Linked DNA regions of Homo sapiens: region 1 is linked to region 2. Evidence: fine-mapped expression QTL. A gene starts in region 2. The other region holds a variant in brackets. All regions are shown on one strand. Distances are from middle to middle.

Region 1 (10,371 bases), 56 kb before region 2:
ACCTCAGGTGATCCTCCCGCCTCGGCCTCCCAAAGTGCTGGGATTACAGGTGTGAGCCACTGTGCCTAAATAGCTTTGTTTTTAGTTATCAAACTTCTGGATAGGTGTTAATCCTTAATCCACATGACACAGAGCAAGTGGCACAAAGCAAGTAAATGAAGGTGTGATGTTTTCATTTGAACTGCATCTCTAATGTCCTTTTCAGCTGTAAAAATCTTGTTCAAGTTTGCAGGGCAAAGATTCAGAAGTGTGATCTAGGCTCTTAAGCTACTTAAGTCTGGTTGAGACACATAAAGCATAATATAAGTGCTTTGTCAGTAGTAAAGACGGTAAATAATAGAAGATTTGAGAGAAGAGATGCTTACTAGACCCGAACATGTAGGAAAGAAAAGAAGGGGAAAAGGAAACATTCATTGAGCACTTTTCACATGCTGAACTCTGTGCCAGACACTTTCACATATGCAGTCATTTACCACATAACGTTTCAATGACCAATTGCACATACAGCAGTGGTTCTATAAGACTGTAACACTACATTTTTCTATACCTTTTCTGTGTTTAGATACAGAAATGCTTATCACTGTGCCACAGTTGCCTACAGTATTCAATAGTCACATGCAGTCCAGGTTTGTAGCCCCTTAGGACAGGGGTCCCCAGTTCCCAGGCCATAGCCTGTTAGGAACTGGGCCCCACAGCAGGAGGTGAGCAGTGGGCGAGTGAACATTACCACCTGAGTTCCGCCTCCTGTCATATCAACAGTGGCATTAGATTCTCATAAGAGCTGGAACCCTGTTGTGAACTGCACATGAGAGGGATCCAGGTTGCGCACTCCATTGGCCTCTATTGCCTGATGATTTGAAGTGGAACAGTTTCATCCTGAAACCACTCCCTCCCACCCCACCCCCAGTTCTTGGAAAAATTGCCTTTCACAAAACCTGTCCCTGGCGTCAAAAAGGTTGGGGACTGCTGGACTAGGAGCAATAGGCTATCCCATATAGCCTAGATGTGTAGCAGGCTCTGCCATCTGGGTTTGTGTAAGTACACTCTGCGATGTTCACACAACAACAAAATTTCCTAATGGTACATTTCTCAGAACATATCCCCCTCATTATGTGACACATGACTATATTAATTAAGAAAACCTGTGCCTGGTCCTAAACTATAAGCAGAATTTGATTAACCAGAATATGGAGGGAAAAACAATTCCGCATATGGTATGGTGTGAGCAAAGGCAAAAGCAAAGCCAACTAGGACACTGTAAGTAGACGTGCTTGATTGGAGAGTCCGGGGCTTTTTAACCTGGGGTCCATATAAAATTGTGTGTGCATTTTTCTCTTGAGAGCTTCTCTAGCTTTCAGTAGATTTTTTAGGAGATCTACGGCCCAAAAAGAGGTTAGTAAATTAGAGGAAAAGTATGAAAAAAAGGCTAAAAAGGTAAATTCTAGAAATTATTAAATGCCAGCCTAAGGAATTTCAGTTTATTCTGTGAGCACATTCCTGCTTTATAAATAATCTTTAGACCCTTATCCATCTCAAGTTGCTACTAAGTTACATTTTCTAACATTCTAATTTTCTTTCATTTGTTCAAAGGTTGCCATTTCATGCCAATACAGAATAGCAACAAAAGACAGAAAAACAGTATTAGGTACCCCTGAAGTTTTGCTGGGGGCCTTACCAGGAGCAGGAGGCACACAAAGGCTGCCCAAAATGGTGAGTCTAACATCCCCTTTGTGAAGCTATATGCCCTCTTTAGATCTGTTTTCTTGTATAAAATGCATAATATGGGCATTCATTGTAGAATTAAAAAACCAAATAAAATATGAGTGTACAGGATCAGTGACAGACTTTATTCCTGGTACTTATTTTTTCAATTCCACAGATTTTTTTTTTTTTTTTTTTTTGAGACAAAATCTTGCTCTGTAGCCCAGGCTAGAGTGCAGTGGTGTGATCTCAGCTCACTGCAACCTTCTCCTCCCAGGTTCAAGCGATTCTCCTGCCTCAGCCTCCCCAGTAGCTGGAATTACAGGCGTGCACCACTGCACCCAGCTAATTTTTTATATTTTTTAGTAGAGATGGAGTTTCGCCATGTTGGCCAGGCTGGTCTTGAACTCCCGACCTCAGGTAATCCTCCCGCCTCAGCCTCCCAAAGTGCTAGGACTACAGGCATGAACCACCATGCCTGGCCTAATTCCACAGAATTATTGATCAAGGTCCTTTGTTAGTCTCTGAGGAAGGATAAAGATAACTAAGATGCATGTCTTGCATTTCTGGAGCTTATGGTTTAATTGGTTCCTTTTCCACATAATACCATCTTAACAGTTTTTCAAAACCATGAGTCATATTAATATTTCATTACAAATATAAGAGGCAGACCTTTTCCCTCATTGTCTGATTTGGATGTTCTCACTGCTGTGTTGTATGGAACCAAAAGAGGCTCAGCAGGCTTTGAATTCCAAGGAGAAGGGAAGGACAGTCAGACCTGGATGCTGCAGAGCAATCTTAATGTCAACTCAAGGGCCCACTGAACCTTATAGCTTCTGGCACTGTAGATTCCTCAGTGAAAACAAGGCTCAACAGAAATACTCTTTGCAGGGAAGTTGATCTCAATTGAGCACAAAAGAAAACAAGGTTTATGGTGTTAATTTTCTAATAATAATAATGTGCTTTCCTTCATAGGAATGTCATAAGGATTTATTGAAAGAATGAATATGCATATATGTGTATCAAAAATATTTGCTGAGTTTCTTTCTTTCTTCTTTTTTTTTTCTTAAACTATAGCTGGTATTTGAATGTTGCTAGAAGCCTTTCTTCTAGTATGCCATATAAGCAGCCCTAGCTGAGTTCTATTTTTGTTAAGCTTAAAATTCTTTTTAAAGACTTTGTCAAAACTATCAGGTTTCTCACAGTCTTCTCTAGTTTCAATATGAGAATTTTATTTTATTTTATTTTTGGGACAGAGTCACTTTTGTTGTTCAGGCTGGAGTACAGTGGCATGATCTCGGCTCACTGCAACCTCTGCCTCCGGATTCAAGCAATTCTTGTGCCTCAGCCTCCCAAGTAGCTGGAATGACAGGTGTGCCCCACCATGCCCAGCTAATTTTTTGTATTTTTAGTAAAGACAGGGTTTCACCATGTCGGGCCAGGCTGGTCTCAAACTCCTAACCTCAGGTGACCCGCCTGCCTTGGCCTCCCAAAGTGCTGGAATTACAGGTGTGAGCCACCGTGCCTGGCCAGAATTTTACATATTATATATATGATAGAAAAAAACCCCTCAGAATAACAGAAATGTACAATTTTAGGAAACATGAAATTCTTTACCTTATTAGTATAAGAATCCTATATATTGAATTAAGAGATAAAGACATTTTTGCTTCAGCTAGAGGTATCTAATCCCCAAAGTTACCCAAGTGTATATCAGTATATTAAATATAACTTATCTATGCTGTTGACAAATAGCATAAACATATGGCTTGACTTTTCTCATTTTAATATTTGTTCATTTGATGATTTGTAAACTATATAATTATCACCCTGATTTTTTTCCCCCTATATTCTCATCCTTGCTTGCCTGTTAGGTGGGTGTGCCTGCTGCTTTGGACATGATGCTGACTGGTAGAAGCATTCGTGCAGACAGGGCAAAGAAAATGGGACTGGTTGACCAACTGGTGGAACCCCTGGGTAAGTGTTAGCACATCTCAGAGTCAGACCTTATAAAGTTACTTATTTTCTTAAAGAGTTAACCTCTTAGGCCAGGCACGGTGGCTCACACCTGTAATCCCAGCACTTTGGGAGGCTGAGGCGGGAAGATCACTTGAGGTCAGGAGTTTGAGACCAGCCTTGCCAACATGGCGAAACCCTGTCTCCACTAAAAATGATTAGCCGGGTGTGGTGGTGCAAACCTGTAGTTCCAGCTACTTGGGAGGCTGAGGCAGGAGGATCGCTTGAACCTGGCGGGGCTGAGGTTGCAGTGAGCCAAGATCATGCCATTGTGCTCCAGCCTGGGCAACAGAGCCAGACTCCCATCTCAAAAGAAAAAACAGTTAACCTCTTGAATATCACAGGAAGCACAGAGAGAAGCTCAAACTCTTAAGAAATGAGTCATTATTCTAAGGAAGGAAGTTTTATAAAATAGCTAATACTAAATCATTTTCAACATCACCCTGATTTTTATTTTGCTTTATAATTAGAACATTAGGAGTACAGAATTCAGTCAAGTCATTATTTTTGGTTCTTAAATTACCTGTATCATTATCCATGCATAACCTTCCTTCAGTTTCTTGTGTCTGTTTTAGTAATATAATAAATGAAACAACCAACCTGAGAATATTAACAATAATTGATATCTACTGATGGGCTACTTCCTCCCATTCAGTTTCTTTGCCTCCCTTTATCCAAAGAAGCCACTATTCTGACTTGTGTGTTCATTACCCTCTTATATTTATTGAAAATCAGCATTATTGAGATATTACTTACATAATAGTAAATGTATTAATTTTGTGTGTGTGTGTGTGTGTGTGTGTGCGCGCGCACACATGTTGGGGTCTCACTCTGTTGCTCAGACTGGAATATGGTGGTGTGAATATAGCTTGTTGCAACCTCAACTTTTTGGGCTCAAATGATCTTCCCACTTGTGCCCCCCGAGTAGCTGAGACCACAGGCATACGCTGCTACACCAGCTAATTTTTTATTTTTTGTAGAAACGAGATCTCACTCTGTTTTCCAGGCTAGTCTCAAACTCCGGGCTCAAGTAATCCTCCTCCCTCAGCCACCCAAAGTGCCGAGATTTACAGGTGTGAGCCACTGTGTCTGGTGAAATTGACCAACTTTTAATGTATAATTTGAGTTTTGAAAATGTATATAGCTGTGTAAACACTGCCACAATCCAAAAATAGCCGTGCATGGTGGCTCACACCTGTAATCATAGCATTTTGGGAGGCTGAGGTGGGAGAATTGCTTGAGGCCTGGAATTCAAGACCAGCCTGGACAACAGAGCAAGATCCTATCTCTTAAAAAAGAATTTTTTTTTTTCAATTAGCTG[G/A]GTATCATAGTGTATACCTGTAGTCCCAGCTAGTCAGGAGGCTGAGACAGGAATATTGTTTGAGCCCAGAAGTTCAAGGCTGTAGTGAGCTATGATCACACCACTGCACTCCAGCCTGAGCAACAGAGTGAGATGCCATCTTTTAAACAAAAATTTTTAAACATTTCTGGTATGTAGTTTGTTTTAATCTTCGTTCACTTAGCATAATGCTTTTGAGATGCATCCATACTGTTGCATATATCAGCAGTTTGTCCTTATTGCTGAGTGTTACTCCATTGTAGAAATGTACCATAGTTTGTTTATCCGTTCACCAAATGATGAGCATTTGAGTTGTTTCTAATTTAGGGCTATTCTGAATAAAGCTGCTATGAACATTCATCTTTAAGTCTTTATGTGGGCGTGACTGGGCGTGGTGGCTCAAGCCTCTAATCCCAGCACTTTGGGAGGCTGAGGCAGGCTGATCACCTGAGGTCAGGAATTCAACACCAGCCTGACCAACATGGCGAAACCCCATCTCTACTAAAAATACAAAAATTAGCTGGGTGTAGTGGTGTGCACCTGTGGTCCCAGCTACTTGGGAGGCTAAGGTAGGAGAATCACTTGAACCCAGGAGGTGGAGGTTGCCGTGAGCCAAGATTGTGCCACTGCACTCCAGCCTGGGTGACAGAGCGAGACTCTGTCTCAAAAAAAAAAAAAGTCTTTATGTGGACAAATGTTTCATTTCTGTTGGGTAAGTACTGAAGAGTGGATTGGCTAGTCCATATAACAGATATATATTAGCTTTTGAAAAAAAAAGTTTGGCCTGAGCAACATAGCAAGACTCTGTCTCAACAAAATAAAAAGTTTTAACTAGTTGGGTGTGGTGGCACATGCCTGTAGTCCTGGCTACTAGGGAGGCTGAGGCAGGAGGATTGCTTGAACCCAGGAGTTTGAAGTCACATGGAGCTATGATCAGGCCACTGCACTCCAGCCTGGGTGAGAGAGGGAGACCTTATCTCTGGGAAGAAAAAAAAAAAATTTAGAGATGAGACTTTGAGTCTTGCTCTGTCACCCAGGCTGGCCTCAGACTCCTGGGCTCAAGCAGTCTTCCTGCCTCAGCCTCCCAAGAAGCCGGGATTACGAGGCATATGCCACTAGTATTTGCTAGGTATGTGTTTGCTTTTCTGTCAGACTGTTTTCCCAAAGTGGTTATACTCTTTTGCATTCCCACCAGCAGTGTATGAGAGTTCTAGGTACCAACCACTTTGCATGGTCAATCTTTTTAATTTTAGACATTCTAACAGGAATGTAGTAACAGTTCTTTTTTCTTTTTTTTTTTTTGAGACAAAGTCTCGCTCTGTTGCCCAGGCTGGAGTGCAGTGGAACAATTTTGGCTCACTGCAACCTCTGCCTGCCAGGTTCAAGCGATTCTCCTGCCTCAGCGTCCCAAGTAGCTGGGACTACAGGCGCCCACCACCATGTCCAACTAATTTTTGTATTTTTAGTAGAGATCGGGTTTTACCATGTTGTCAGGGCTGGTCTCAAACTCCTGACCTCAAGTTATCCCCCTGCCTTGGCCTCCCAAAGTGCTGAGATTACAGGCGTGTGCCACCACACCCAGCTGGAATTAGTCATATTTCATTGTGGTTTTTATATTACCCTAATTACCAAAGATATTGAATATCTGTATATCTTATTTGATAAAGAAGCATCTGTTCAAATTTTTTGCCCATTTTCTTGGACTGAGTGTTTTTCCTATTATCGAGTTTTCAGAGTTCTTTATATATTAGGATATGAGTCCTTTATCAAATATATGATTTGCAAATATTTCCTCACAGTCTCTGGCTTATCTTTTCACTATATAAGAGCAGAAATTCTTAATTTTAATGAAGTCTGGTTTATCAAGTTTCTCTTTTATGGATCATGCTATTAGTGTGGTATCTAAAAAATATTTCTCTAACTCAAGATCACTAAGTTTTCCTGTATACTTTCTTCTAGAAATTTTCTAGTTTTAGCTCTTACATTTTGGTCTGTGATCCATTTGGAGTATTTATGGATCATGCTATTAGTGTGGGATCTAAAAAGTATTTTTCTAACTCAATATCACTAAGATGTTCCTGTATACTTTCTTCTAGAAATTTTCTAGTTTTAGCTCTTACATTTTGGTCTGTGATTCATTTCAAGTTTGTATATGGTGTGAGGTAAGGATTGAGGGCCTTTTCTTCCCTTTTTGCATATGAATATCCAAATGTCCTGGCACCATTTGTTGAGAAGACTACTATTTCCTCAGTGAACTACTTTGATCCCTTGATCAAAAATCAACTGACCTTATCTGTTTGGGCCAATTGGATTTCCTATTCCTAGTTATCTATATGTCTTTTTGTTAAACCAATACCACACTGTCTTGATTATTGTATTTTTATAGGGAATCCTGAAATTAAGCAGTATGAGTCCTCCAACTCAGGTCCCTTCTTTCAAAATTATTTTGCTCATACTAGTTCCTTTGCATTTGTGTACAAATTTTATAATCATTTTGTCCATATCTACAAAAATACCTGCTAGGATTTTTATTGGAATTGCATTGAGTCAGTATATAAATTTGGGGAGAATTGACAGCTTAAAAATATTGAGTCATTTCATCCATGAACATGGTAAAGTTCTCTGTTTATTTAGGTCTTTAAATTTCTCTCAGCAGTGTTTGGTACTTTTCAGTGAATAGATCTTGAACACATTTTGTTAAATTTATGCCTAGGTATTTCATACTTGTAGGCTGTTTTACTTTTTTAACTTTAATTTCTCACTAGAATATAGAAATACAAAGATTTTTGGACATGGACCTTGTATCTTGTGGTTTAGCTAAATTCATTTACTAGTTCTAGTAGCCTTTTTTATTAATAGATTCCTGAGGATTTTCTACATAGATAATTATGTTGTCTGTAAGTAAAGACAGTTTGACTTCTTTCTTTCCAATATAGATGTCATTTGTTTCTTTTTCTTGACTTACCACAATGTCTAAGACCTTTGTACAATACTGGATAGAAGTCATGAGAACAAGTATTGTCAACTTGTTCCCAGTCTTAGGAGGAAAGCATTCAGTATTAAGTATGATGTTAGTTGTAGGTTTTTCATATGTGCTCTTTATCAGGTTTGCTGAGAATGAGTATTGAATTTTGTCATGCCTTTTCTCCATCTACAGAGATAATTGTGGGGTTTTCTTCTTTTTTAGTCTATTAATAATGTCAGTCACATTGATTTTTGAATATTGAACTAGCCTTGCTTCTTGGAATAAACTCCATTTTGTTGTCATATATTATAAAGGATTTTTATGTCATCATGAGGGATAAAGTCTCAAGGATAATTTTCTTATGATATTTTTGCGTGGTGTTGGCATCAGGATAATGCTGGCTTCATAAAATGAATTGAGAAGTGTTCTCTCCTCTTTTTTTTTTTTTTTTGAGATGGAGTCTCACCCTGTCGCCAGGCTGGAGTGGTGCAGTGGCGAGATCTTGGGCTAATTTTTGTATTTTTAGTAGAAACAGTGTTTCATCATGTTGGCCAGGATGGTCTCAATCTTCTGACCTCATGATCCACCTACCTGCCTCAGCCTCCCAAAGTGCTGGGATTACAGGTGTGAGCCACTGTGCCTGGCCTCCTCTTATATTTTCTGGAAGATTTTATGTAGAGTTGGTATTATTTCTTAAATACTTGATAGAATTAACCAGTAATTCCTGGGCTCCTAGTTTTCTTTGTTGGGAAAATTTTTACTTATGAATTCAATTAATAGATATAGGGCTATTCAGGTTCTCCATTCTAGAGTAAGCTACGATAGTAGTTTGTGTCTTTCAAATAATTTGTTCATCTATTAACAATTTGCCAAATTTATTGCAATAAAGCTGTTCATAATACTTGTCATTTTAATGTTTTTATACTCTATACTGATGTCTCCTCATTCATTCCTGATATTGATAGTTTATCAGCTGATAGGACTTTAATCACTTATAAAATACCTTCATAGTAACATCTAGGTTAATGTTTATTGAATAACTGGGCTGTAGCCTAGCCAAGTTAACATATCTGAAGACTATCATACTCCACCCCTTGTCTGTTTGACACCCATACACATCTCCTAAAGCCATACATAGTCTTCAAATAAAGGCAATGACAGGAGTCATACTTTATCCTGACATAATGCAATTCTCCTTTATACAACCAAAAATACACTAATCCTTTCCCTAGAAGAGGATGCAGAGTCCTTGGGTGAAATTCACTCTTCTCTCATATTCTGTAACATAAATGCTATGATATAAAGTTAACCATTATGGATACATCTTATATTAGATGATAAGGAGATAGAGAAGAAACACAAATATTTGGTTAATTATATATATTCATAACAAAATAAGAAATCCTCATAAATAGTACAGTATTCATTACTGTATTCAGAAATGAATATTTATAATATTTCCAGATCAGTATTCAGCTGATGTGGAAAGAGAACTGAGCTATCAAATATCAGAGTAAATAATTAAACAACCCAAAAGGAAAGTAACAGTGGAGCCTTTATTCACTTACTTTGATAGTTTACACAAAAGGCTAAAAACCAAAGAAAGTGCCAGCTCCTTTTTCCCCCCAGTACCGTTTTCCCCATGGAATGGTACACTGGTTGAGGATCTGGTAGATTAGCATACAAGTGGGGGACATCTCACTGTTGTGAAAGCCCTGAACAAAAGGTTCCTGCGGCTTTATGGACCCTGGGTGAGGAGAGTGGAGTAGACTGGGAGAAGTGTCTTTAAGATTTCCCATTCCGGCCAGGTGCAGTGGCTCATGCCTGTAATACCAGCACTTTGGGAGGCCAAGGCGGGCAGATCACCTGAGGTCAGGAGTTCGAGACCAGCCTGGCCAATATGGCAAAACCTCATCTCCACTAAAAATACGAAAATTAGCCAGGCGTGGTGGTACATGCCTGCATTCCCAGCTACTCAGGAGGCTGAGGCAGGAGAATCACTTGAACCCGGGAGGCAGAGGTTGCAGTGAGCCGAGATTGTACCATTGCACTCCAGCCTGGGCGACAGAGTGAAACTCCATCTCAAAAAAATAAATAAATAAATAAAAGATTTCCCCTTCCTCCTTTGACAAGGTCTCAGCAGAGGCACCTGAAGAAGGCCTCAGCCAAAGTCCCCATATAAAAAGACCTAGGAATAGAAGGCATCTAGGCTAGGAATGCACATTTGTGTAAGAGCTTAGCCAGCCCCAGAGACCCAAGTCCTTGACTGCAGCTCCCTCAGATGACACCGCAGTGCACTGGCTGTGTACCAGGTTTGGTGTGGAAAGGGTGATATTTCTACTCCCCTTTT
Region 2 (10,371 bases):
CAACTTTTGCTTTTTTTATCCCAAGAAGACCTGGGACCTCCCCCTGAACCAAGCTTGGAAATTTCTAGCTTGAGCAGGCCCCCAGTGGGCTCCAAGCCCAAGATAGAACCCCAGGTCAGAAAGAAATCTGAGTGAGTTTCCACATCTTTTAAGGGTTTGGGGGGTGGAGTACACAGGTACCAACTTCACAGGCTGTAAAAGACAGAAGCCTCTGTAAAGGGCTCAGTCCTGTCCTCCTGGCTCAGGGAGACCCAGGGCCAGAGGAGGCAGGGGTACCTGTGAAGAAGCAATGGGACCTTCCCAGCCTTGGTGAGGGGGTTGTCAGGAGCAGCTGGGCACAGCAGTTAAAAACACAGAACTGGGCTGGGTTTGGTGGCTGACACCTGTAATTCCAGCACTTTGGGAGGCCAAGGCGGCCGGATCACTTGAGGTCAGGAGTTTGAGACCAGCCTGGCCAACATGGTGAAACCCTGTCTCTACTAAAAATACAAAAATTAGCAGAGAGTGGTGGCAGGCACCTGTAATCCCAGCTACTTGGTAGGCCGAGGCAGGAGAATCCCTTGAACCTCGGAGGCAGTGAGCCAAGATGGCGCCTCTCCTCTCCAGCCTGAGCAACAGAAAACACACACACACACACAGAACTGGGCCTGGCCCAGTGACTCACACCTATAATCCCAGCACTCTGGGAGACTGAGGCAGGAGGCTTCATTGAGACCAGGAGTTTGAGACCATCCTGGGCAACATAAGGAGACCATCTCTAAAAACACAAAAAATGAAATAAAAAACATGGCACTGGGCAAGCCACTGAAACTCCTGGAGCCTCAGTTTCCTGGTGAGTTAAATGGAGTTGACAAGACTTTCTCATCAGGTTGCCATGAGGATGAAATGGCAAAAATGTTCGGCCCAGCATATGGCATGCAGCACATGCTTAACACATGGCAGATGTGGGATCCGGGGCTCACACGGGGACGTCTCTGGGATGGGGCCACCAGACTCCCATCCCTCCCACACAGGGGACAGCAACCACACGCTCCTGGTGTAGTGCAGCAGACACCAGCCCTCAGTTGAGATACCTGGATCTGGCCAGGCTCTTCCTTTCCTAGATGTGTGACACGGGGCAAGTCACCTCCTCCCCCAAGCCTTCCGTTTCATCATCTGTAAAAGGAAGGGGCTGTACTCTGTTTTGGTAACAGAATCCTTTCTTCAAACAAAATCTTATTATATGTCAACGTCACGTATAAAACTAATAAAGGTAGTCCATTAGCATAATCTTTAGAAGTCTAAAATTTTTAATATTCACTTATAAAGTCAACCAATGGAAACAATAGGTTTAACGCAAAAATTGGGAAAAACAGGATCAGCGCGGAGAGGTGCAGCCATGTAACCAGCTTGGGCATTCGCTGGTTTCTGCGGTATTTGGTTGCGCGGTACAGAAAAGGTCCTGGCAGGACATGTTCTCTTGGAGGGTCTGCACAAAGATGGCTAAGCGTGGCAGCCGAAGGTATACCCTGAAGGCCTCTGATTAGGGTTAAGCTCTGATGTGTAGTAATTTAAGAGTGTGGGTATTTTTTAATCATTAGTTTCAAATCTACTTTAAAATAAAATGTGAATCAAAAAACCTGTGAGCCACCTCTCCAGAAACCCAGAGTGCCACAGAACAGAATGAAAACTGCTGGGCTCTGACTCCAACCCTAACCCTAATCACCGCCTCGCTAGTCCCAGCGTTCCCCCTACCCCTGGCCCCAGTCCCTCCTGCCTACACCCCCCTACAGGCTTTATGACATCTGTCCTGGCTGGACACACCTGGGTACTGCAGGGGGATGTCGATCTTGGGCCCGATGACATAGTGGCCCTCCTCCAGGGTATGAGCTGTCACCGTTGTCCACTGCCGGCAGGAGTGGATGAGCAGGATGTCTCGCTCACTGACGCCCTCGGCGTACTCCCCTGGGAAGGGGGAGGAGGACAGAGGATGAGGGGAAGGAAGACAGGACATTAGAAGGGGCAGAAAGAACAGATAGTGACGTCCTCACCAAGACCGCCCCCCTGAGGGACAGCTCCACACAATCCCTGTCCAGGTCAGCAAAGCTCAAGGGACAGGCGGGCTGCCAGCTGGGGCCTGGGGCTGTGGGGCTGGCTGTGAGCCTCTCAGGGCTGTGACTCCCGACGGGGCCCCTCGTTCATCAGTGGCTGGAATGCCTGCTGTCCCTGGCTCTGAGCTGGAGCAGGGGGAGCTCCCCATGGATGAGCCCAGACCAGCCCCTGCCCTCCAGGAGCCCTTAGGCCCCTGGGGAGGTGGGCAGAGATGTACCAGAGACTAGGCAAGTTTGAGGCACTGACTGGAGTATGTCTGGGGACCCGGAGGGCAGCAGTAGGCTCCAGCTGGGGGTGTGGTGGCGAAGGGAGACTTTATTGAGCAGGAGATGCTGGAGCTGTGCTTCCCAGTCAGGGCCTAGGCCCTGCAAGAAGGGCCCTACTGGGGCAGTGGAGAGGGCCCGGACGGGACTGTCCCTTATAAGGTCCCAGCTGTGAGAGCTCCCCCAGAGCCACGGGTCGCTCAGGTCAGGAGAATGACAGGGCTTAGAGCAGCTGATTACTGCCTCTCCCAAGGGCAGCCCTTCCTTTCCACCCACTGCCTTGTTCAGGGGACCTCGAAGGAGAGGGGGGGAGTCCCCAGAAACCCCCAACCCCATCTCAGAGAAGCCACCCACTGCCTTGTCAAGGGGACCTCGAAGGAGAGGGGGGAGTCCCCAGAAACCCCCAACCCCATCTCAGAGAAGCAGCTCCTTGACACCCCCTCCCCACGCCCCCTCATCCTCCCAGTTACAGGGGTGACGGCTGAGGGTTGGAGGGGTTGAGAGAGCAGGTTTAGAAGGCAGGAGTGGGAGGCCCAGCCCTGGGGCCTGGGGGAAGCTGCTCTGGGGCAGAGGTGTTGGGAGTTGGGAGGGGTCTGGGCCTGGAGGCGCCAACCCCAGCAACGGTTTCCAGGGGAGCAGGAGGGGCAGCCCAGCTTCCAGGAGGCAGAAGGGGCTGTGTCCGGGCTGCAGCTGGTGGGGAGGGTGGGGGTAGGGAGTACCTCCTTCCTTTCTCCTTCAGGCACAACTTACAAAATTTCTGCCAATCAAATGGGAAATGGTTTACTCTGATGGCTGGGGGCTCCATAAAATGTGTACATGTGGGGTAGGCGTGTGTGTGTATGTGTGTGTGTGTGTGTGGCAGGGTGGCGGGCGGTTCAAGACGCACAGGAAGGGCCTGGCCCCCACTATGTGTGTGTTGGGGGTGTTGTCTAAGCTTTCCCCTGTACCTCCTCACCTCCGGGGGCCCAAGAAGCTCTCCTCCAACTCTGCTCCCTCCTCTGAGAGCTGTCCTGGGTCCTAGCCCCATCTTCACAGCCACATGGGCACACAGCAGTAATCATGGCTCATGACCACCAACAGCTGAACCACAATAGCCCACAGTGACAGATGCTTGTCACCCAAACAACATAACTCAGTCTCCGGCCAAGGGGCCCCTCCCAAATGCACAGGCACACAGGGACCTACCCTTCAAGCCATACAATTCTGACCAGACATTCACACCCTGATGGTGACCCAGCCATAGCCACACACTGTCACACACAACAGACAGCTGGGCCATCACACCAGTTGTTCATTCACTCACCCATTCATTCAATCCATAATCTTTATTGGGCAAGGATGCCTGGTCTCAAGGAGCCCACAGCCAGGTCTAAAGACAATAAACTGACTGACCATTATAATGGGGTGCACAGTAGGAGACAAGCCAGAGTTGGCATGAGGTGGCCGGGGAGCCCAAAGGAGGCCCTACGCAGACCGAGGAGCTCAGAAAAGCTGCCCAGAAAGGGGAGATGCCAAAAAGGATGTGTGGGAAGTGGCCAGAAGACCCCAGGGCAGCGACCTCCATTCACAGGCAGACACAGTACCACACTCTGACCACTCGGCCGCGAGCCAGAGAACTAGACGCTGGCCTGCCCGACGGCGGGGCGCCGATGCTCCCCCATGAGCCTGCTCCCGGGACAGCTGACGCCCACTGTGCCCACTCCTGGCCGCCACGGAGGAGGGGCTGCCGGGCCCCACGGGGAGACGAGGAGCCTGCGGCCGCGGGCCCCATTAGCATTCATGGAAGCGAGTGTGCCAACGCGGGCCAAACCCCTATTCTTCTCACACACAAAACCCCCGGCCTGGCTGCCAGCCCCGGCTACCGCCCATCCCCCAACCAAGCAGCACCCCCCTCCCCCCAAACGGTCCCCTCGCTCCATGCAGCCTCCGGGCGTACCCTCTCGGGCCCCCATGCGTGGTTCCATCAGCCGAGCGGCTGGGGGCCCCAGGTCCTATTAAGAAGTGGGACAAGATTCGGGGGAGGGCCGGGAGTTTGGGGGTCACGCCGGGCAGCAGACCCGGCTCCCGCCGGCCTCTCCCGAAGGTGGCCTGCCCGCCCCAGGACCGAGGCTGCTCCTAGGGAAGAGAAAGGAGGTGCAAGAAGGGTCCCCAGAGGGGCGGAGCAGGACTAGGGGTGGCGGTAAGGGGAAGACAGAGTCCGGGTCCCAGGGATGAGGGAAGACAGAGGTGAGAGGCCAGGGACAAAGGGACCAAGGGGGCGCGGCCGGGGCGGGGGGCCCAGGGGCAGCGGGGGAAAGGGGGGCAACCGACGGGGCGGGAGCAGGGGCTCGGCCCCTTTCCGGACTCCAGCTGGGCGGGAAAACTCTGTCCCGGGCCCTGTCCCCGGTGTCTGTGCCTGTGCTTGTCCGCGGGGCCCAGGAGGCGGACCTGGCGGGTGGGCCCCGCGTCTCCCGGGAGGCGCGCCAGGAACCGCTCGGGGCCCACGCCGGGGAGCTGGGAGGGTGCGGGTGCCGCACCCTCCTCACGATCCCTCTGGCCCCTGGCTGGAGAGCCCACCATTTCCCCGCGGACCCCGGTCCCCATCTCCAGCGACCCCGGTACCTGGCCCAAGGCAGGCGAGCGTGGGCAGGCGGCAGCGGCTGACGATGAGGTCGAGCGGGAAGGCGCCCATGCTCCAGCGCAGGCCGGCCAGCCCGGCCGCCAGCTTCTCCATGGCATGGGCGCCCCGGGGCCGCCGTCCCGGGGCCCCGACGGTCAGTCCCGCGCGGCCCAGGCTCTCGCGCCCGCCGCCACCTCCCGGGGCCGCCGCGGCGCTCGCCGCCTGGCAGCCCCGCCGGGCCGCGGGCGTCACGTGGCCGGCCTCCCCGCAGGGCGCCGACCCCGGCCCCGCCCCCGGGCCCCGCCCCCTCCTCCCGGACCCCGGCCCCCTCCTCCCGGACCCCCGCCCCCTGCTCTGTCCGCCCCGACCCGGACTCGCCGCCGGACCCACCCCCGGACCTCCGCCCCCAGCCCTGTCCGCCCTGCCCCGCCCCGGCCCCCTCTCCTCGGACCCCGTCCCCGCGCCCCCTTCTGGGACCCCGGGTCCCCAGCCCCGCGCTCCGTCCGCCCGCCCCTGCCCCCGCTCCCCGGCCCCCACCCGCCGCTGCCGCCAAGCCCCGCCTCCCCTCCCGCCAGCTTCCCCGCGCCCAGGTGACGGCGGGTGATGGAGGACCCCAGGGCGGGCGCCTGGAGGGACAACGAAGTCCCGAGCGGCATCTGCGGAGTCGGCGCGGGGTCGGCCTCCTCCTTCTGGCTGGGTGTGTCCGGGCCCCGCCGCTCCCCCTCGTGCTGGCCTCCCGGAGGCCGCGCCCACCCGCGCCCTGTCCTGCTCCGCCGCCCAAAGCTCGGGTTCTGAATTCTGCTCTTCCAGGACCTTCATCACCTCCGGCTCCGTGGAGCTGGGCGAGGCAGCCTCCTTAACCCCATTTTACTGATGAGCAAACTGAGGGGCAGAGGTCAGGTGGCAGCCAGGACTTCAACCTAGGTTGGACTTCAACCCAGATTTGACTCCAACCCTACTGCCCAAGAGCACCCTACAGCGCCCCACCATAGAGCACCTTCCACGTTCCCAGCGCCCCCTTAGCCGATAGCCCTGTGTCATGTAAACCGGCGCTCCAACCCTTCCACAGCACGCGGTGTGGACTGCGTCCATTCTGCAGATGAGGAGGCCGAGGTTCGAGGGCGTAACCGGTGCTGCGGTCTCCTCTCGGATCATTACAAGAACCGCCTTCCTCCCCCACCGCCACCATCCCTTCTCTCTTTTCCTTCTCTTTTTTTGAGACTGGGTCTCACTCTATCACCCAGCCTGGAGTGCAGTGGCGCGATCTCGGCTCACTGCAACCCCCACCTCCCGGGCTCAAGCGATCCTCCCACCTCAGCCTGCGGAGTAGCTGGGATGACAGGCACCTGCCACCACTCCTGGCTAATTTTTTTGTATTTTTAGTAGAGACGGCGTTTCACCATGTTGGCCAGGCTGGTCTTGAACTCCTGACCTCAAGCGATCCTCCCGACTCGGCCTCCCAAAGTGCTGGACTTACAGGCGTAAGCCACCGCGCCCAGCCTTCGTTCCCTTCTTTTAATTTGCGTTTCCTTTTCTGCTGTCCTCACCTCTTCCTTCCAAGCCCCCTGGACTCCAGCTCGGGGCCTCCCTTTGGGACCCCCTTCCCAGAAGCTTAGATGGCCTCGGCCTCGGCCTCGCCCTCTCTGTGTCTGCGGCGCCCTCTGCAGGTAATTGGGGGATGATGCGGGCCTGGCTGATCTCGCGGAGCCAGCGGGCCTTAGTCCCTAGGCTGCTCCCTCACGGGAGTGTAGTGGCACGATCTCGGCTCACTGCAACCTCCGCCCCGCAGGTTCAAGCAATTCTCCTGCCTCAGCTTCCTGAGTAGCTGGAATTACATATGTAGCTGGGATTACAGACAAGCACCACCATGCCCGGCTAATTTTTCACCTGGCTAATTTTTGTATTTTTAGTAGAGACAGGGTTTCGCCATGTTGGCCAGGCTGGTCTCGAACTCCGAACTCAAGTGATCCACCCGCCTCGATCCATCAGTCCTCAGCCTCGGTACCCCCGGAAGAACCCCACCAAATACAAACAAAACCCTCTCTTCTGAGGTGACTGACACCTGGCATCTTATGGCTCGAACCCCATGAGAAATGGCAGCCGACAAGATGAACACCACTTCTCAGCGAGAAGAGACGTTTTAGATCAGTGGTTCAATCCTCAACTGCTGCAGAGGAAAAAACTGAGACTCCAAGAGCAGAAATGCTTTGCTCTAAGGTCACACGGCAAGAAAGAGGCAGCGCTGCGACCAGAAGGCAGGACCCCCACCTACCAACTTGACCGAGGCCCTTCCCCAGCCTGGCCCAAACCCAGCCCGCTCACCCTGGCCAGGGAGGAGCTGCTCACCCCGGTGACTCAGGCAGCCCAGATGGACTCCGCTCTCCTGAGTCTGTAGGGGTGGGGTGGGTTCTTTCCCAGGGAAGTGGGAAGGTGAAGCCTGGCAGGAGAAGAAAAGAAAATACAGTGAAAATATAGGAGTCTTAAGAAGGGAATGGGCCAGGCGCGGTGGCTCACACCTGTAATCTCAACAGTTTGGCAGGCCAAGGCAGGTGGATCACTTGAGGTCAGGAGTTCGAGACCAGCCTGGCCAACATGGTGAAACCCTGTCTCTACTAAAAATACAAAAATTATCCAGGCAAAAAATTAGCCGGGCATGGTGGTGCTTGTCTGCCACTCCAGGTACATCTGTAATCCCAGCTACTCAGGAAGCTGAGGCAGGAGAATTGCTTGAACCTGGGAGGCGGAGGTTGCAGTGAGCCGAGATCGTGCCACTACACTCCAGCCTGGGTGACAGAGCGAAACTCCATCTCAAAAAAAAAAAAAAAGAAAAGAAGGGAATGGAAGGTCTGAGACAGGAGGGCGAAAAGGCCGGAAGAAGCAAGTGAATGAGAAGGGTGCTGCCTTAGATTCACTTTTCTTCCCCTACCCTGTAGGGTCTCTCTTTAGGGTGACCGTGTGTCATCCTAACTGGGAGACTTTTAAGAGGGAAGCCGGTACTAACCACCTCCCCACCCAGCTAGGACAACAGGTGCAGGTAGCCTGGGCTCCAGACAGCAGGTATAAACTGGCATTGAGCCACGTGGTCACCTTCTCCCTGCGCCCTGGACAGAGACGCCACATCTACGGTGGCTTCTCTTACTCAGCATGGCCGGCTCTCCTCAGCTCCCGACCTCAACTTCCAGCTCTACCCCTTCGCCCCCAAAAGGCGTTCACAGCCACTTCCATTTCCACAATCACACTTGAACCGGGTCCCCTTTTATTTTCTATCCCAGCTGAGGACATCTCCTTTACCCTGGTCTCCCAACCTGGAAATCTTCTCCCTAACCTTTATACCAAACTAGTCACCAAGTGCTGGCAATTCCTCTTCCACCAGGTGTCATGGAGCCCCAGCCTCCTCTTCCCAGGAGCTCCAGTCCCAGCCAGGCTTTCGTTCACAGTTTGGATCTTCTCTCCCCCAGGCAACCTGCCTATTTCACACCCAAAACCTATAACCCTGGATTTCGGCTGAGTTAGGGGCAACACCGCTGTGAGACACCAGGCAGATTCACCTAACTAAATGGACCCACCTCCTCACTGTTGCAGAATATTCCAGAGCCTTTCCAGGGCTTCTTAACTGTTGTCAAGTCTCCAGGGACCTGACACAAGTGTCCAGACACATACATCACTTGATTTGCTGAGGCTCAGGAGTCCTGCAGGAAGGAACTCAGCTTCTCTTGGAGGCAGAAATGTTTAGATCTTTCCTTGGACTGAGATTGCAGGAAGGAGAGCCAAGAGGGCACCAAGAGGGAGGAAGATGCTGGGCAGAGAGGCCAGGCTGTGTGGCTTGGTGTGGCCGTGGGAGAATCTGGGGCCTAGGTGCTGTGTGTGGCTGGGCCTGTGCTTCCCGCTCCAGGAGAGTCAGCTGGGGGAAAGAGAGGGAGGAGGAACAGAAGAAAGAGCCCAGCCAAGGGGATCCCAGCTCCTCTGCAGTGGGCTCCACTCTGACAGCGCTGGCAGTGACAAGTAGAAGGTGGAGCCTGGCCCAGCATAGTATCCCACCACTATGGGAGGCTGAGGCGGGCAGATCACTTGAGCCCAGGAGTTTGAGACTAGGCCGGCAACATAGTGAAACTCTGTCTCTACAAAAAATACAAAAACTAGCCAGGCATGGTGGTGTGCTCCTGTGGTCCCAACTACTCGGGAGGCGGAGGCAGGAGGATCACTTGAGCCCAGGAGGTTGAGGCTGCAATGAGCTGTGATCATGCCACTGCACTCCAGCCTGGGTGATGGGGCAAGACACTGTCTCAAAAATAAAAAAAATTTTAAGAAGGAGAGCCCTATTGGCTGGAGGGGAGGAAAAAGTAGGGAGGGGTCACAGCCCTACCAGAGGCCCAGTGTTGACCCAGAGGCCAGGCTGTGGCAGAGGCTGGCCAGGCTGCCCGTGAGCGGAGCATAGAGGTCAATGGAGTAGAGGCAGGGAAAGCTGCCCACAGCAGCTAGGGTTATTATTTATAAAGTACCCTGCCCCACCCCATCTAGAGGACAGATGGCCTTTTCTGGGATCATGAACTGGGCGAGGCCAGGAAACATTTAGGAAAGCACCTATGAGAAATTTAGGTAATATTGTATTTAACTTTTTATTTCAGAACATTCTAAATGTAGACACAACTAGAGATAATAGCATGTGACTTCCCGTGTGCTCATCTTCCAGCTTTAGCACCTACCAACCCACGGCTGATCTGATTTTTGTGTACCTGCTTACAACCCTTCCTCACTGGATAAAAAAAAAAAAGTTTTCTTTTTTTTTTTTTTTTCATTTTAGAGACAGGGTCTTCCCTCCGTCACCCATCTTGGAGTGTTAAAAACAACTTTATTGAAATATAATTCACATACTATACAATTCACCCATCTAAAGTTTACCATTTAGTGTTTTTAGTATTCATCGTATCTTGCAAACATCATTACAATCTAGTTTTCTTTTTGTTTTTCTATTTTATTTTTGAGACAGTCTTACCATGTCACCCTGGCTAGAGTACAATGGCACAATCTCAGCTCACTGCGACCTCTGCCTCCCAGGTTCAAGCCTCAGCCTCCCAAGTAGCTGGGATTACAGGTGCCCACCACCATGCCTGGCTAATTTTTGTATTATTTAGTAGAGACAGGGTTTCACCATGTTGGCCAGGCTGGTCTTGAACCCCTACCTCAGGTGATCTGCCTGCCTCGGCCTCCCAAAGTGCTGGGATTACAGGCGTGAGCCACCGCACCTGGCCTTTCTTTGTATTTTTTAAAAGAGGGTCTTACTATACTTCCCAGGCTGGTCTTGAACTCCTGGGCTCAAACAATCCTCCCAAGTGGGTGGGACTACAGGTATGGGCCACTGAGCCCAGTATTTTATCTTTAAATATCTCTATATCTACCTCTAAAGATAGAAACTTTTTT

Direction of the effects. Positions count from the first base shown, and alleles are read on the strand shown. Sizes are in standard deviations (SD) of each study's normalised expression.
For the expression in atrial appendage of the gene that starts at base 5,200 in region 2, allele G in region 1 goes with a lower level than allele A (moderate effect, 0.51 SD a copy in GTEx).

What was found. PIP is the estimated chance that this variant, and not a neighbour inherited with it, causes the effect. A credible set is the group of variants that fine-mapping cannot tell apart.
Region 1: its variant is the best candidate, but not a certain one, in a credible set for the expression of GAREM2 in atrial appendage (GTEx, PIP 0.70).

Annotation. Positions count from the first base shown.
Region 1 is chr2:26,223,499-26,233,869 of GRCh38, reverse strand. HADHA (hydroxyacyl-CoA dehydrogenase trifunctional multienzyme complex subunit alpha) reads left to right here. Exons shown (of 20, transcript NM_000182.5): 6 at 1,591-1,710; 7 at 3,576-3,678. Among named protein-coding and RNA genes, the nearest start is that of HADHA, 16 kb to the left of the region's middle. The variant G/A (reference allele first, on the strand shown) is at 5,039.
Region 2 is chr2:26,167,917-26,178,287 of GRCh38, reverse strand. GAREM2 (GRB2 associated regulator of MAPK1 subtype 2) reads right to left here and starts at 5,200. Exons shown (of 6, transcript NM_001168241.2): 1 at 4,956-5,200; 2 at 1,804-1,944. The coding sequence starts at 5,067. RefSeq lists an enhancer at 2,200-2,738.